Regions from separate parts of the Homo sapiens genome. Here region 1 is linked to region 2. The links come from fine-mapping of genetic effects on gene expression. A gene starts in region 2. The other region holds a variant in brackets. All regions are shown on one strand. Distances are from middle to middle. Region 1 overlaps SIPA1L2 (signal induced proliferation associated 1 like 2). Region 2 holds the start of SIPA1L2 (signal induced proliferation associated 1 like 2).

Region 1 (8,338 bases), 51 kb before region 2:
ACTCAAGAGACTGGTTATTTGCCCCAGGCGAATCAGCAAGCGCAGGATGTGAACTCAAGTCATCTGGACTCCTAAGATCATGCTTTCAACACATCATTTTTTAAAATAATCAACGTAAGAATTTCTGCAAACTCAACTACAGCCAAGCGCCCTAGGGCTCACACTCAGACCTGACACTGCATGGACTCAAAACGCAACAATGTGGAGTATACACTTCAGACAAAACTATATAAACATGGGTTTATGAAGCCAGTGTGGCTCTCTAAATGCTGCCAAGATCCAGCACTGCTTCCTAAAAAAGACAAGACAAACCCCAAGAAGGAGGGCACCCCAGAGACAGTCCCAGTTTACAAGTGTTAACCCAGCATAGCATTAACAGCGTTCCTTTCACTTTGAGAGGCGATAAACTATAAGGTCACCTACCGGGAAGGCTATGACTCGTCTTAGTTTTAAAAAGCCCTCCTTTTTCAATCTGTCTCCATTTTTATGAAGGACAGAAACAGTAGATGAAAAATTACCAGTAGTCCCTCAACTGCGGCTGAATGTAAGATTTTGTGCCGTGGTTAGGATTAGGGTGGGGAAAGAAATTCTCACTGACCATTTTTGTAGCCAATGTAGACAGTTCTGAGTTTAAAAATCTGATGCATAATATAGTGGGTACCTAAAAAAAAAAATTAAACACAGCATTACCATATAACCCAGCAATTCTACTTCTGGGCATACAGCCAAAAGAACTGAAAGCAGGATCTCGAAGATGAACTGGCACAGCCCTGTTCTCAGCAACATTATTCACAGTGGCCCAAAAGGTAGAAGCAACCCAAACGCCCATTAGATGAATACAGAAAACAACATATGGGAAATACGTGCCGTGGAATATTATTCAGCCTTAAAGAGGAAGCAAAGTCTCACACAAACTACAACATAGAAGAACCCTGAAGATACCACGCTAAGCAAATAAGCCAGTCACAAAAAGGACAAATACTGTATGATTCCATTTATATGAGGTATGTAGAGTAAGTCAAATTCATAAAATCAGAAAGTACAACGGTGGCTGCCAGGGATTGGGGTGAGGGGAAATGGGGTTAAATAGATACAGAGTTTTCAAGATGAAGAGGTCTGAAAATGGATGATGGTGATGGTTGCACAACAGTCTCAATCTACGTAACATCAGTGGACGTCTAGTACCGTCAGGGACTCAGACACAGTACTAGGTATAAGGTGAACCTCATGTTACAGTGCTTTGCAGACACTGTGTCTTTTATAGACTGGAGGTTTGTGGCAACCCTGCATGGAGCAAGTCTATCGGCACCATTTTTTAAGTGCTCATTTGGTGTTTCTGTGTCACACTGTGATTCTCACAATACTTCGAACTTCGTCATTACTTTTATGTTTGTTATGGTGACCTGTGATCAGCGATCTTGGATGGAACTAGTGTAACTGTTCTAGGGTGGCATGAGCCACATTCATATAAAACAGTGTATTTAATCCATAAATATTGTGTTCTGATGGCTCCACCGACCAGCCTCCCCCATTTCTCTCTCTCTCCTCAGACCTCCCGATTCCCTGAGACACAACAATATTGAACGTAGGCCAATTAATAACCATACAACAGCCTCTCCGTATTCAAGTAAGAGTCAAACAACTCACTTTAAATAAAAAACCAGAAGCAATTAAGCTCAATGGGGAAGACATGTCAAAAGCCAAAACAGGCCGAAAGCTAAGCCTCTTGCGCCAAACAGCCAAGTCGCGAATACAAAGGAAAAGTTCTTGAAGGAAATTAAAAGTGGTACTTCAGTGAACACACAAATGATAAGAAAGCAAAACAATCTCGTTGCTGATACGGGGAAAGTTTGAGTGTTCTGGATAGAAGATGAAACCAGCCACATTTCCTTAAGCCAAAGCCTAGTTCAGAGAAAGGCCCTAATACTCTTCAATTCAATGAAGGCTGAGAGAGGTGAGGAGGCTGCAGAAGAAAAGTCTGCAGGTAGCAGAGGCTGGTTTGTGAGGTACAAGGAGAGCTACACTAAACAGCAAATGTTCTATGTAAATCAAACAGCCTTCTATTAGAAGACGTCCTATAGGGCTTTCACAGCTAGAGAGGGGAAGTCAATGCCTGGATTCAAAGCTTTAAAGGACAGGCTAATTCTCTTGTTAGCAGTTAATGCAGCTGGTGACTTTAAGTTGAAACTCATGCTTAGTTACCATTCCAAAAATCTTTGGGCCCTTAAGAATTATGCTAAATCTACTCTGCCCGTGCTCTATCATTGGAACAACAAAGCCTGGATGACAGCACATGTGTTTACAGCATTATTTACTAAATATTTTAAGTCCACATTGAAACCAAGTGCTCAGAAAAAAAGATTCCTTTCAAAATGTTACTGCTCATTGACAATGCATCTGGTTATCCGAGACCTCTGACAGAGGTGTACAAGGAGATGAATGTTGTTTCTTGCCTGCTAACAACATCCATTCCGCAGCCCATGGATTAAAAAGTAAATCTGACTTTTAAATTTTATTATTTAAGAGGTAATTTTCATAATGTTATAGCTATCACAGATAGCAATTCCTCTGGTGGATCTGGGCAAAGTAAACCGAAACCCTTTTAAAATCACCATTCTAGATGCCATCAAGAACATTCACGATTCATGGGTGGAGGTCAAAATATCAACAATTAACAGGAGTTTGGAAGAAGTTGACTCCAACCTTCAAGGATGACTTTGGGGTGGGGGCTTAACATTTCAATAGAGGAAGAAATAGCAAGAAAACTAGAATTATAATTGGCGCCTAAAGATCTGACTAAATTGCTACAAACTCAGGATCAAACTTGAATGGATGAGGAGTTGCTTTTTGTAGAGGAACAAAGAAACTGGTTTCTTGAGATGGAGGTGAAGATGATATGAACATTGTTGCAAAGGATTTAGGAAATTACATAAACTTGGCAGGGTTTGAGAGGAGAGACTCCAGTCTTGAAGTTCTACTGTGGGTCAAATGCTATGAAACAGCATGAAGTCTTTCATGAAAGGAAGAGCCGATTGATGTGGTAAACTTCATTGTTGTCTTATTTTAAGAAATTGCCATACCCAGCCCAACCTTCAGCCACCACCACCCTGATCAGTCAACAGCCATCAACACTGAGGCAAGATTCTCCACCCGCAAAAAGACTGACTTGCTGAAGGCTCAGATAATCATTTGCATTTTTTAGCAAAAAGTATTTTTAAATTAAGGTTTGCACATTTTTTAGACATAATGCTACTGCATACCTAATAAACTCCAGTATAGCGTAACTGTAACTTTTAAATGCACTGGAAAAAAAAAAAATCTGTGTGACTTGCTATACTGCAACATTTGTTTTATTGCAGTTGTCTGGGAAATAAGCAAACCTCCGAAGTATGCCTGTACTGAAAGGCAACGTGCGGAAGCCTAGGTAAAATACATTACTGAACTATAAAAGATAAATGTTTCTTACAAAAAAAAAAGGCATGATATTCTACAATTTAAAAAACCTCAAAGCCTCTGAAGCATCAGTATTTTTCAAAATTTTGGGATCTCATTTTTTCTCTAAGGAAGCTTTCTACTCTCATCTATATTCTTTATGCCGATACGTTATGAAGTCCTCAACTTGAGTTTACAAAATAAGTCTTTTAAAGTCCTGTTAATGAAACAGTCTGTGTTTTGTGACTAAATATCTTATGCTTAATGTCTCTTCTCTAGGAGAGACACTTGGTGTTGTAATATCCCCAACACAATGAACAGTCTGTAAAAGGCACTTTTCCTTCCTTTGTTACAGCAAACATCCTGTAAACAATTAATGTTCCACTCTTTTAACTGACGGCTTTTGTTTACTGACAGGAAAGGAAACCACAAATTCTTCAAGTAGCAATAGGGACTGCAGAGTTTTACTTCATTTCCTACTAAGCAGGTGGTTTATATGAGGCAACTGGCTATTGTATTTTACCTTGTTTTGCCTTTAGACAGGAAAAAAAGAAATGAGCTTTCAGCAGCACAATCTTCTCAAGCAACAGAGCTTGGGGCCAGGTGCTGGGATGCCAAGTGTGAGGGGGAAAGGTTCTCCCCTGTTCCCTGGTCTATCACTGCGAGGAGGCTCCTCACACTTCATCAGGAAGCTCTGTGTGAAAACCAGATTTGCAGACAAACAGAGGTCTGGCTCTTTGTTCTTACCAGCAGGTTCATCAGCTGTTTTCTCCGCAAAAGAAAGTTCTGAGAAAGTGAAGGCAAACATTTTCTTTCCACTGAAATGAACACAAATATTCCATCAAGCTCCGTTTCTCTACTTACTGTTAGGATGGATTTGCTAGTATCTGGGGAAAGCCAGCATCAAAAAAAAAGGCTACTTTTTGTTTTTGTTTGTGTTTGTTTTGCAGCCCCACACCACCACACCTCAGAGTTTTCCATTAGCCCCAAAACACTCCGGTCTAGACTCTAGACACCAGCAAGGTCCAGTTCATGACCACATATCCAGGACTAAGCACATGCTCTGTACTTAAAAAGCTCCCAGTACATATTTTCCAAAAGAGAAGAAGAACAGAGGAGGGAGGCAGGGCATTTCCTACAGGATAAGCAAGTGTCTGCTGAAGGAAGAACACAGCCATTCCCATAAGGGAATCCATAGAATAGGTTGAACCATATGAAACCACCAATGGTTCTCTATTTTTGACCTAAAAAAGCAGCAATTTCATGCAATCTAATCTAACCTCTGATGCTCCTCAGTGAGCTTCCCTATTCCATGCTATTGCAGGAGCCATGGGAAAACTTCCTCTTCACTCTCCAAGCTCGATGAAAAATCAACTAAAGGCAGATTAATAGGAGAAAAAGCAAATATATTAATATGAACAGAAGTCTCACAAAACAAAAGAACTTAAAGAAATGGCCAGATGGGTGAAGCTTTTTCTGAGGTTACAGAAAGAATGGGGGCTTGGAGTGTTACTGAAAAGGGATCCCGATCCAGACCCCAGGAGAGGGTTCTTGGGTCTCACACAAGAAAGAATTTGAGGTGAATTCGTAAAGTGAAAGCAAGTTTATTAAGGAAGTAAAGAATT[A/T]AAAAATGGCTACTCCACAGGCAGAGCAGGAGCATGGGCTGCTCAACTGAGTATACTTATAGTTATTTCTTGATTACATGCTAAATAAGGGGTAGATTATTCATGAGTTTTCCAGGAAAGGGGCAAGCAATCCAAGAAGTCACAGTTCCTCCCCTTTTTAGACTAAATAGTAACTTCCTGGTGTTGCCATGGCATTTGTAAACTGTCATGGCACTGGTGGGAGTGTCTTTTAGCATGCTGATGCATTATAATTAGCATATAATGAGCAATGAGGATGACCAGAGGTCACTTTTGTCACCATCTTGGTTTTGGTGAGTTTTGGCAGCTTCTTTACCTCAACCTGTTTTATCAGCACGGTCTTTGTGACCTATATCTTGCGCTGACCTCCTGTCTCATCCTGTGACTAAGAATGTCTAACCTCCTGGGAAAGCAGCCCAGTAGGTGTCAGCCTCATTTTACTCAGCCCCTGTTCAAGATGGAATCACTCTGGTTAAAATGCCTGACAGGAGCATGGCCAAAAACAGGTTATGATGGTACCTCAAGTTATGATGACAGGACAGGTTATGGGAAGGGGAGGAGTCCTGGCTAGCAAAGGTTGCCTCATGATGCAGATGAAACCTCACATGGGTAGCAGCCCTCAGACAGAATGGATGGTAAATTTTTTTTCAGACCTTTATAGGTGTCAGACTCTCAGTTAATCTTGCCTAGATGAGGACAAAGGAGGGCCTTAGAGAAAGCCTGGCTGTATTAATGCAGATTCCCTACAGATGCAAATCTCCCCTACAAAAGACAGCTTTTCAGCTGTTCTTGCATTTCAAGCCCAGTGAATAGCCATCTTGAAATATGTCAAAGTATATTTCAGGATAAAATACTTTGGTTCCCTTCACTCTCTTTACCATCAATCCTTTATTCTGCTACAACACTAACTTTATCCCTCTCCTTTGTGCCCTCACAGCCAACTGCCACATGAATGGCCCATAGCACCTATAACTCAACATGCAGAAGATGGAGTCTGCATCCTTCCTGACAAATCTCCTCCTCCACCCATGTTCCTGACCTGGGCTAACAGCTCCAGTCTTCTCTTACCCTCCCTCTTGTGCTGCAACCATGGCACCTAAAGTTTCTGTCCTCCTCGTGTCCCTTTCCCACATTCCGTTCTGGTTCTTGTAAGGAACCATCCCTGCCCTTGATGTCATGCTGTCCCCTGAGCTGCTCTGGGCACACCATTCCCTTAGCTCGGTGACTAGTTCAAGGATATGTGCAGGCCATGGCAAGGTCATATACGGTTTTCTCTGGGATGATGTCGGGATCTTAAGAAGTTCAGTTCTGCCAAAGGAACTAAGCTAGGAGGGTGTGGGCTGCAGCCGCTGGCCACTGTCTCATAGATCACAGAGAAAGGGCTGTTATGCAGAGCTCAACGTAGGGAAGGCAGAGCAAGGACAGAGAGAGAGAGGAAAAAAGAGGCCTTCTGACAATGTTTGAGCCCCTGAATCCAACAATGCCTGTAGTATGCCACCCCTAAACATCCCAGTTACTTGAGCTATGCCTTTCTTTTTTTGCTTAAGTTACTTTGAGTTTCTTTGACTGATAACCAACAGCTCACACAGACACATCTGTTCAAAACTATACTATGTGTAACTTAAATCTCAAAATAACCTTCAAATAATTCCTTAATATGGCCCAAGTACCTTCGTAACTCAACTTCCCTACCTGACAGTCAGAATACACATTAAATGACCTTTCCCAGATGAATATGCCCTAAAGGTTCCTGCCTCTGTCCCTTCTATCAAGACGTCCCCTTACCCAAAATAAACAGCATCCTTTGCGCCTAAAAGCCCCATATTCCCCACAAAACTTTCTCAGACATTTCCAAGAGAAAAACTGTTAAAGAAAAACTTCCTAGATAGAAAAGTGTCTCTTCCTCTCTACTACTCACTTAGAATACTACTTGTACCTTTTGCTGGAACATTTTTCAGTCTCTTATGTAACTTCTTGATAGATATGTCTGCAACCTTCAACTGTGAATTCTTAATGGGCAGAAGCCTTATGCATAATAATAAATGGTTGGTGAAATGAATAAGCAGGCAAGCTTGTTGCATTCAAGAAACATTTGTTGATGATGATGTCATGATTAATTTCATTCACTGTCTATGCTTTTTCCATAATTTTTTTTTCAACTTTTATTTTAGATACAGGGGGTACATGTGCAGGTTTGTTACATGGGTATATTGCACCCCGGCAGTGAGCACAGTACCCAAGAGATAGTGTTTTACCCCATCCTCTCCTTCCTTCCCTCCCTCCCTTCCTCCCTCTACTAGTCTGCAGTATCTTATTCCCATGTTTACATCCATAGGTGCTCAATATTTAGATCCCACTTATTAATGAGAACATGTAATATTTAGTTTTCTATACCTGCATTGGTTTGCTTAGGATTATGGTTTCCAACTCCATCCATGTTGGTATGAACGACGTGATTTCATTCTTTTCATGACTACACAGTATTCCATAGTGTATATATACCACATTTTCTTTATTTAATCCACCACTGATGGGCACCTAGGTTGATCCCATGTCTTTGCTGTTGTGAACAGCACAGTGATACACATAAGAGTGCATGTGTCTTTTTGGTATATGATCTATTTTCCTTTGGTTATATACCCAGTAATGGAATTGCTGGGTCGAATGGTAGTTCTAAGGTCTTTGAGAAATCTCCAAACTGCTTTCCACACTGGGTGAACTAATCTGCATTCCCCCCAACAGTGTATAAGGGTTCCCATAATTTTTTACATTAATTCTTCTCTGAGCTTTTAAGAATAAATAATTAAGTTATTGTGATTATTGGGATAGCCTCCATGTGGTGTTGAAAATTCTGTGGCTCTTTCAGTAATTCCCACAAACAAGATATATAAGGAAGACTCGTTGGAAACCAATACATCCCTGCTAAATTCAAGCTAAAAAGCTTTAACTACTCCACAATGAACACAAAGCGCAAATTTCTAGTCAAGGCAACCAGGCCACTAGCAATATCTCCTATTTATTTTTCCAGCTTCTTGTCCTGGTGCTCTTGTTCTCACACTCAAATAGTTGTTCTTCCAACTTGCCTGGGTAAAGGGTGGAGCAGTGAAAAGTCATGATGCTGCTTGGTGAACACACACCTCTTCCACCCAATTTGTAAAACATTACAAATAATGATATCATTTTAGTATGGGAAGCAGGGACAATTTTATTAGCAGAAAAGATATAAGTTAGGAAGTAATAGGCATCATCACAAGCACGACTAT
Region 2 (8,338 bases):
TGTGATTAACGGCTCGGCAGGTTTTAGCGAAAAGGAAACTCGTTGAGTCTGGCCACCAGAAAAGTAAATGCAAACTTGGACTACATCAGTGCAAGCAACATGCAACCTATGACAAGACACTCCTGCTGTACTCTACACAGGTCATGTTCACGGGTCACGTTACACCAAGAGCCCAACTCTGACAGAGACTGAAGGATTTGTTCTGTAGGCCACCAAGGCAGTAGAATTTGAATAAACAAGCAGAATCAGATTTCAATTCTATAGGCCAAAAAACTTTCTAGTACTCAAAACCATTAAAAGGTGGAAATCACCACCCGTTACTTGCAATGTTCAGGTATTACCGGAAGACCACTTACAGAGATTATATAAAAGGATCCAAATATCAAAGAAGGGTTAGTTGAGCTACTCAGTGATTTCTAAACCCCGGTCCTTAGTGAATTTTTCATTGACCCATGCAAAAGAAAAAAGTGTCTGTGTGGGGATAGATATAAATCCACGAGTGGGGTAATTTTAACACAGCTCCTCTCTGGATAGGAAGAACTCTCCTTTAAGTCTGACAGCATACATATTCTTCCCCCTTTCCCCACCTTTTCTCTTTTTTGGTACATCAAAAGGATTTTGACGAAATGCATTGACAATAGGTAGTAACTGCTGTTGTCAATTTTAAACACACTTATGTAGCAACATTAAATGCTGACATATCTGACAATCCCTAATATTTGCTTTTTTTTTTTTTTTTCATTTTACAGGTAGACGAAAACAAAAGGTATAGGAACAACATGACGAGACAATCTTTAAGGTCCTTTCTGGCCCAAAGGAGCATGACAACTAGACTCGACTTGCTGCATATTTTCTTCCTTCCTACCACCCAACTTGGCTATCTAGTACTGGGGGAGAAGAACGAACCAAGGAATTGGGTTGCACTAAATATGAAATCTCTCAAGAAGCAGAACCTCAACAGTGAGTCAAGATCTGGCTCCCTTCTACAGCTGCTGTTCTTTGGAACCAAAGTTTATGAATCCAGTTCAGAAAGGATCAAAATAATCTATGTCTAAAGTTGGGAAGCTTTTAAATTCCTACCACATTGTTACCACACTTTTAAAAGGAGTCACAGCTACATGCAACTGGAACACAAAAAGCAATTTCTGAATCATTGATTTCAAGGTAAACCAAGTAGCTATGACCCTCATGCAAAGCATTCACATACAAACTTACTATAGGCCAAGGCAAAGAAATGACATAATCATGAAAAATATAAACATCCCAGTCAGACAGGCATTTTCATTACTCTAATGCGTTCGTCTTAAACCTTAAAGAAACCCCAAATTTTGGTGCTGAAAGGGATCATGAAAATAGTTTCATCCAAATTCATTTGTGACAGGTGGTAGAGGCAGGAAGCTCAAGGTTCCTGTCTGTGCCTAAAGCTTTTTCTACTCTCACTCTGCAAATGAATTAGGCACATTAACAGAAGTAGAAAACCTAGAACATGGTTCACTATTCTCTAGGACTGTACTTTGTATTTCATTGAAGTTCAAAACAGAAAGAAAAAAAAAAGCAGCTTTTCAATTAACAATACCCTAGTCTAAATTTTCTTCAAATTCAGTGTGTCTTTAAAAGGATTTGTAATCCTCAACTACCACCATAAATTGATCAGAAGTTCAAAAACTCAATGCCTTCCTCAATCTCAAAAAATAACGCTGCATTTACCAATTATGGTTGGGGGCAAGGGGCTGTATCCACATAAACACATAGTTCTTTGCAAAGTATGCAGGAAACACAATCCCTTTAAACTAGTTTCGATGCCCAAACACAGTGCTTTTAAACCAGTTTCAATTACCAAACAACTGGTTTTTCAGGGTAGCTAGTATTTCCTTACTTTCAGAAATAGACTGCTAATTTCAAAATAATAACCCGCTTCTCCTTTGCCTCAGGTAAAAAGATCCCCAAGGTGGACAAGTGTTTACTAAGCTCAGGTATCAAGGAACCCTTCAAAACACCATCCCAGTCTTGCGGGGTGAGGGGGAGAAAAAAAAAAACACCTTCCAAATCCATATTACACAGCTTTAACTACAGTAAGCATCATAGAAGCCAAATCATGATCTGATAATTCCCTTATTAGACTAAAAGTTACATTCCATACAATTAAAGCTCTTTGAGAAAATCTATGATTTCAAAACATAAAAAGCATCTAATGAAAAACATATACTTAAAGCAACTGGGTAAAATCTGTGGCCCATACTAAAAGCCAGAAGCTCCACCCCCATACCTGTGATCTAGCTCTTGCTTTTCCGGATCAAGTGCTTACACTGCTTCTTATCCAGGTTCATTTCACCCCATCTATAGGTAGAATGTGGGTACTGATAAAAGCTGTTTCTGATTTCATTTCCTACTTCCCAGATGTTTGCTCTGTAGTTTTTCTTCTTTTTCCTTCAGCTATTTATGAATACACTCTAATTTAGAACAAATTCAGTATGTCTTATTTTAAGCTGGGCAAGGCACACAATAAATGATAGCTACAAAGATAATTTCAAGATATTTACTCAGCGTATAAATAAGTTTGCCTACCTAGGCAAGATTTGGACAGGCTGCCGTGATCTTGCTTTAGAATAAAAGTGCTTAAAAACATAACTGGGAGCCTGCTGCTGCTGCTGCTGCTGTTACTGCTGAAACTACGGGCTATTGTGCTTGTCATAAAAGGGCTTGTGCTTAGAAATGAAAAAATCAAACATCCTCTGGGGAGATGTCCCTAACACAATCCCTGGTATGAATCATGCAGATACTTTAACTGCATCTCTTCCCAAAATGGATCAATGGAATCTTTTAGGAAGAATCAATGTGATTTATACCCAAAACTTAAGAAAGACTGCATTTTTCTCATGAATAATACTCTCTTATAACTCTGAATCAAGCAGTGAAATTCAATCAAGCGGTAAACATCTTTTAACTGGAAATATTGTCTAAACAGAATGACAAAACTAACAGAACTCTGAATTCTTTAAATAAGTCCAAACATGAAACAAGCATTCTTAAATGATGTAACTAAATACAGTAACCAAGTTGTCTCTTGAAATTCAACTTTGGGAATGCCAAAAATAATAGGCCACCTCTCAATATCCGCAAAAATATCGGTATGTGTAGGTTTTCTAGGAAAGCAATAAAAAGCAACAGTTTGGGAGATCTTTTTTCTTCAATTACTAATTGTAACACTAGAAAAATTACAACCTAGGCTGCACACAAACGCGACTCAAATGGGCAGTTTACTAAATGTCTGTCATAAGAAAGCCATCTAGTGTTAACGTTTAGAATGGAGACTGCAGACAAAAGAGGCAAAGAAAAGAAAAATCTGTGCGACTATTTTGAACTTACTGGGCAAAGACATGAGAATCACCAAGATTCTTTGAGGGTTTTTTTCCTTGTTTTTTTTAAAAAAAAGCCATCCTTGTCAAAACCCAGTCTCAATCTAACCAAAATCCAAAATGTCTACAATTTTGTTTTGACCAAAATCATGTTTTGGTGAGCACAATTCCGTAACCAATGCACTTGATTTTTTCCAATACTCAGGCCAGAGTCATCTTGGGCTGAATTAATTTAACTCAAGCAGGTTAATGATGACAAATATCTCCCACAGGGGTAATGCCAAGTTGTTCTCTCTTTCCGAGAAGCCTCGGCTCTCTCTTGCAGATGATGAGCCGAAATTGATTCTTTGGGTTTGCGGCACGGCTGAAAATTAATCTGTAGGTGTTCCCAGGGATATTCCCAGGACGTGGGCAAACTACCCTCACTGACACGGGAAGACCCGGAGAGGCCCAGGAGCTGGCAAAGTGGGAAGAAAGGTCGCGGTGAGTGAGAAGAGCGCTCGCCGGAGGCTCCCGGTCTTACAAAGAGGGATCCGTCCCGGTGAGGGCGCGCGCTCCGGGCGCACCCCCTCTAGAAGGGGAATTAGCCCCGCAGCAAGTTCGGCGTCAGCTGGCCAGGCGCGCCGGGGAAGCTGCGTCGGGCAACCGCGAGCCCTTCCAGAGAGCGTTAGTCAGAGCGAAGTTCTGGGCACCTGGAGAAGACCCTCCTCAGTGCCTGTGTCGCCGAGACGGGAATAACCTTTCAGCCGATCGATAACTTGGAGAGAACAGGCGGCGGCGGCTCCTCTTCCAGCCGGGGATCGGGAGCGCGGGCGCATCTGCGTCTACAAGCCGGACCCTGCGCCGCGACCCTCGCACCCCCGCGCCCCTCGCACCCCTCGCCGCCGTCAGCCCCCCAAAGCGCCCCGAAGGGCATCCCCTTCCCCTTCGGGACAGTCCCCGCCTGGCCGCAGGCATCCCGAACCGACCCTCGCCACGCTGCCCGTCGGATTCCCCGACACGAACCTTCGCAACGCCGTCCGCCGGAACCTGCTACAGCCTGTGCGCGCCGGGCGGCGCGTACCCGGGCTGCCGCCTCGCCGCCCGCCGCTGCCCGGGGCTGCCCATCGGCCCGGACTCTCCCCGCGCCGGGCTCCGGCGGAGGCGGCCCGGACCCGCTGGCTGCGGCTGGAGCTCTCGGCCTGCGCTCGGGCGGCCGGCGGGGGCGCGGTGCTCCTCCTCCGTCCTCCTCCTCCTCTCGCTCCGCCAGCTCCTCCCGGGCTCCCAGTCTGCCGCGCCGGCTCCCGATGCCACCGCCCGCCCGCCCAGCGGCACCGCCCCCCGCCCGCTCTGCGGGCTCCCATTGGTCGCTGCCTGCAGGCCCCCTCGGCCCCGCCCCACGATTGGGCGCGGACGCCGTCAGTCTCACCGTCCGCCCGGCTCCGGGCGCAGCCGGTGCGCTGTTCCCAGGCCCCGCGGCGCGCGGGAGCTGCGCGTCCAGGAGGGGCCCGGACGCCCTTCTTGGGGAGGGGGCTGCGGGGCGCATCATGAGCGGCGCTGGGCGAGCTCGAGGGCCGGGCAGCCTACCTGGACCCCGGCTTCTAGAGAGCCGTCGCCGTCCTTGTCGAGACTCGCTTTCGCCCCTCTGAGGAATAAGTTAAAAACCGCGAGTCTGGTTCTGAGCCGCCCCCTGGCGCAGGCGCGACCCCACCCGGCCCTCCCGTCTCCCAACTTGGGACAGACGCGGCGGCCGGGCGGTCGGATCCGTGAGCCTCGGCCGCTGGGGCTACATACACAGCCCAGGACGCCACAGAATCGCCGAGGCCCCGCGAACGCCCAAACGGCCGCAAGTCGAAGTGATCCCATCTGAAGAAGACAGCGCGAGGAAGCGAGACCCTGCTGTGTGCCGGCCCCCGGAGGGCGCCCCGGGCCCTGTGGGTCGGAGGGTGGGGAAGCACAGAGAAACACGCAGGCAGTAAAACGTTAGGAGGACAGGGGGTGCCAGCGTGCAGGAAATGCTGCTAAGAGACCTTTAGGAGCCAAGGGGAAAACGGAGAGATTGGCAGTTCCAGGCACCCACATCCCAGCGCGGTCCGCTCACCCCTTCCTCCCTGCCCTCCAGGCAGCGCTCAGCCCACGGTAGAAATGTCTTGCATCTTTTTTCCGACGAGGAAGAATTGAACTTTTTATACCCAACTTTTCTGCTTTCTTAGAAATGTTGACTCACCTGTGAGGAAGCATTATTTGAAACTATTATTGTAAATTGCTTGACATTTGAATTAGATGCTGAAAGATTAAAGGGTCTCAGAAGAATCTTTTAAGCTAGACTGGAATTGACTCTGCCTAAATGGACAGCAACAGTCATCTATACGCAGGAATAATAAAGCAGGTGGAGGCAGCCTCTAACTTACCTTCCAGCCACACCGTAGAATTTCCTGAGCAGGCTTTTTTGTCAGAGTTTTGAGCTGGGTTCCCTGAGACTGGATTGGGGCTTTCAGTTTCTCCCCTTCTAGAGTCAGACTTCTTCCTGAAGAAAAAGTGTTATCTCTACTTCCCTATCACAAACACTTCCTAGAACACAGCCCTGTTAAAAGGTAAATAGAGGCGGTCCTTCCCACACTATATTTCTCTGTGATCTGAAGCATGTACACATTATACAATCTTTCGTATCTTTTTAAATTATAGGTATAATCTGTGGGATTAGATATAACTAAACAGGTCAAGAAGCAATCCTGTGACATAATACAATTCCTGAGCACTCCAGGTTTTGATGAGTTTCCCAATTGTCACCCCATTATCAGCATTTACAAGATTGTCATGTATTCATTTAACAAACATTTATGAAGCCGGGCGCGGTGGCTCAAGCCTGTAATCCCAGCACTTTGGGAGGCTGAGGCGGGAGGATCACAAGGTCAGGAGATCAGGATCTTCCTGGCTAACACGGTGAAACCCAGTCTCTACTAAAAATACAAAAAATTAGCCGGGCGTGGTGGCAGGCGCCTGTGGTGGCAGGCACCTGTAGTCCCAGCTACTCGGGTGGCTGAGGCAAGAGGATGGTGTGAACCCGGGATGTGGAGCTTGCAGTGAGCCGGGATCATGCCACTGCACGCCAGCCTGGGTGACAGAGTGAGACTCCGTCTCAAAAAAAAAAAAAAAAAAACAGATTTATGGAGATCCTCTGATGTTCCAGACCATACTAGGTGCTGGGAATATAAAATGCACAGGACATAAGGCTCGGCTTTTCAAGAGCTCACCAACTCACAGGTGTATCCTCATATGTTGTAGATACTCTACAAGAGGTATCAATGTTATCTCCTGTGTACTCAACAAAACCCTGCAGGAGGAGCAGCCGTGAAGGAACTTTTCCTGGGAGTGCCTAGGGAGGACATGATCACATTTCACCTTATTGCGTGTTTCATTGTCTATAAGGGCCTTGAGGAGAAGAACCACATCTCCTCCAGCATTTTGATCCCTAAGGCACAAATCCACTACAATCCGGAGCAGATCCTTGGTCAGTGGGTTGTCATTGAGGTGGGTCTTAACTGCTGCAGCTACAAATGTACACTGTCTAATAGATGAAGAGGAACCCATCCCTTTGATGTGTTCCTTAATATCCAGTACATAATGATCATATATGGAAGGAAGTCTGACCAGACACTCTTCGATGACGGTGTTAGCCACAATTCTCACTCTCTCACCTTCCCATCCCACTTCTTGTGCTTTCCAAACTAAAATTGAAATATCCTAAGCCCCACTACCAAGGTTGGCAGTATTTTTTTTAATGCCTGTAATTGATTGTGCAGAGTAAATATTTGTGTACGTTTATGAAGGTCCGTGGGAGTTTCTTACTTTCCCAGAACTCCACGTCACATGAGGCTGGCCTTCATCGGAATGTTCCTGCTTTCAACAAACAGGTCCTGAGTGAGCCCCTTTGCTGTGCAGAACAATGGTGATACATACAGGCGAGAGCAAAACCCACGAGGTGTCCACCTCACGGCCGACCACAAGAGATCCTCAAGAGACACATCTCAGGAATGATTCTGAACCTTCTTCACCAAATAAAATATTCCAGAAATAGTATTAGATTTAATGTGTGTGTCCCTCCTTGCTGGTCTTCCTAGCAGCAGCCTTCTTGTTTCTTGCCTTTTTAGGCAAACAGCCTGAAACTTAGCACAGACGGTGGAATTGCAGCACCTATGAAGATATCACTGCATCCTTTTTGCCTCAGGACATCTTACTGAAAATCATTCTATGTTAAAGCTATACATTTTGCTGAAATTTTGAAGACAAACATCAATGGTGAATTATAAACTTGTATTTGCCTAAAGGCTAGTGTGAACTTATCACTTTCGCCTTCCCCCAGGCCAAGATTTTCCCTCCCCTTGTTGCCCAAGCCTCACTTTCTATCCCTCAAAATTCTTCTTTCTCCTGTGAATTGCATCGTGTTCTAGGGGTTCCCAAAGAAACAAACTAAAGGGATTAATTCTTTTTTTTTTTTCTTTTTTCTTTTTTTGGCAGGGGATGGAGTCGCTTTGTCACCGAGGCTGGAGTGTGGTGGCATGATCTTGCCTCACTACAACCTCCGCCTCCCAGGTGCCAGTGATTCTCCTGCCTCAGCCTCCCAAGTAGCTGGGATTACAGGCACGCACCATCAAGCCCTGATAATTTTTCTATTTTTAGTAGACATGGGGTTTCAACACGTTGGCCAGGCTGGTCTGGAACTCCTGACCTCAAGTGATCCACCCATCTCGGCCTCCCAAAGTGCTGGGATTACAGGCGTGAGCCACCGCGCCCGGCCTAATTCTTTTTACAGTTTTCTTCCAGCACATCCACGCCTGAAATAATTCCAACATCAGTCTTACCTATTTTTCTCTAAGTGTAAAGAGAGCTGGAGTTCAAAGACATACCAACTGTCTACCCTGTTCCAAGGTTTTGCACTTCTTGGCTGACCTTGCCTGGTACTTCTAGCTATTTACGTTTGAATTTAGCAAAACGGGAGTTTT

What was found.
Region 1: its variant is fine-mapped to the expression of SIPA1L2 in whole blood (INTERVAL, PIP above 0.99).

What each region holds. Positions count from the first base shown.
Region 1 is chr1:232,574,955-232,583,292 of GRCh38, forward strand. The region is part of intron 1 of SIPA1L2 (signal induced proliferation associated 1 like 2); the gene reads right to left. Among named protein-coding and RNA genes, the nearest start is that of SIPA1L2, 51 kb to the right of the region's middle. The variant A/T (reference allele first, on the strand shown) is at 5,058.
Region 2 is chr1:232,625,508-232,633,845 of GRCh38, forward strand. SIPA1L2 (signal induced proliferation associated 1 like 2) reads right to left here and starts at 4,626. Exons shown (of 23, transcript NM_020808.5): 1 at 4,362-4,626. LOC124904551 (a long non-coding RNA gene) reads left to right here and starts at 5,075. Exons shown (of 2, transcript XR_007066943.1): 1 at 5,075-5,929; 2 at 7,250-7,420. RefSeq lists silencers at 4,404-4,503, 4,564-5,043.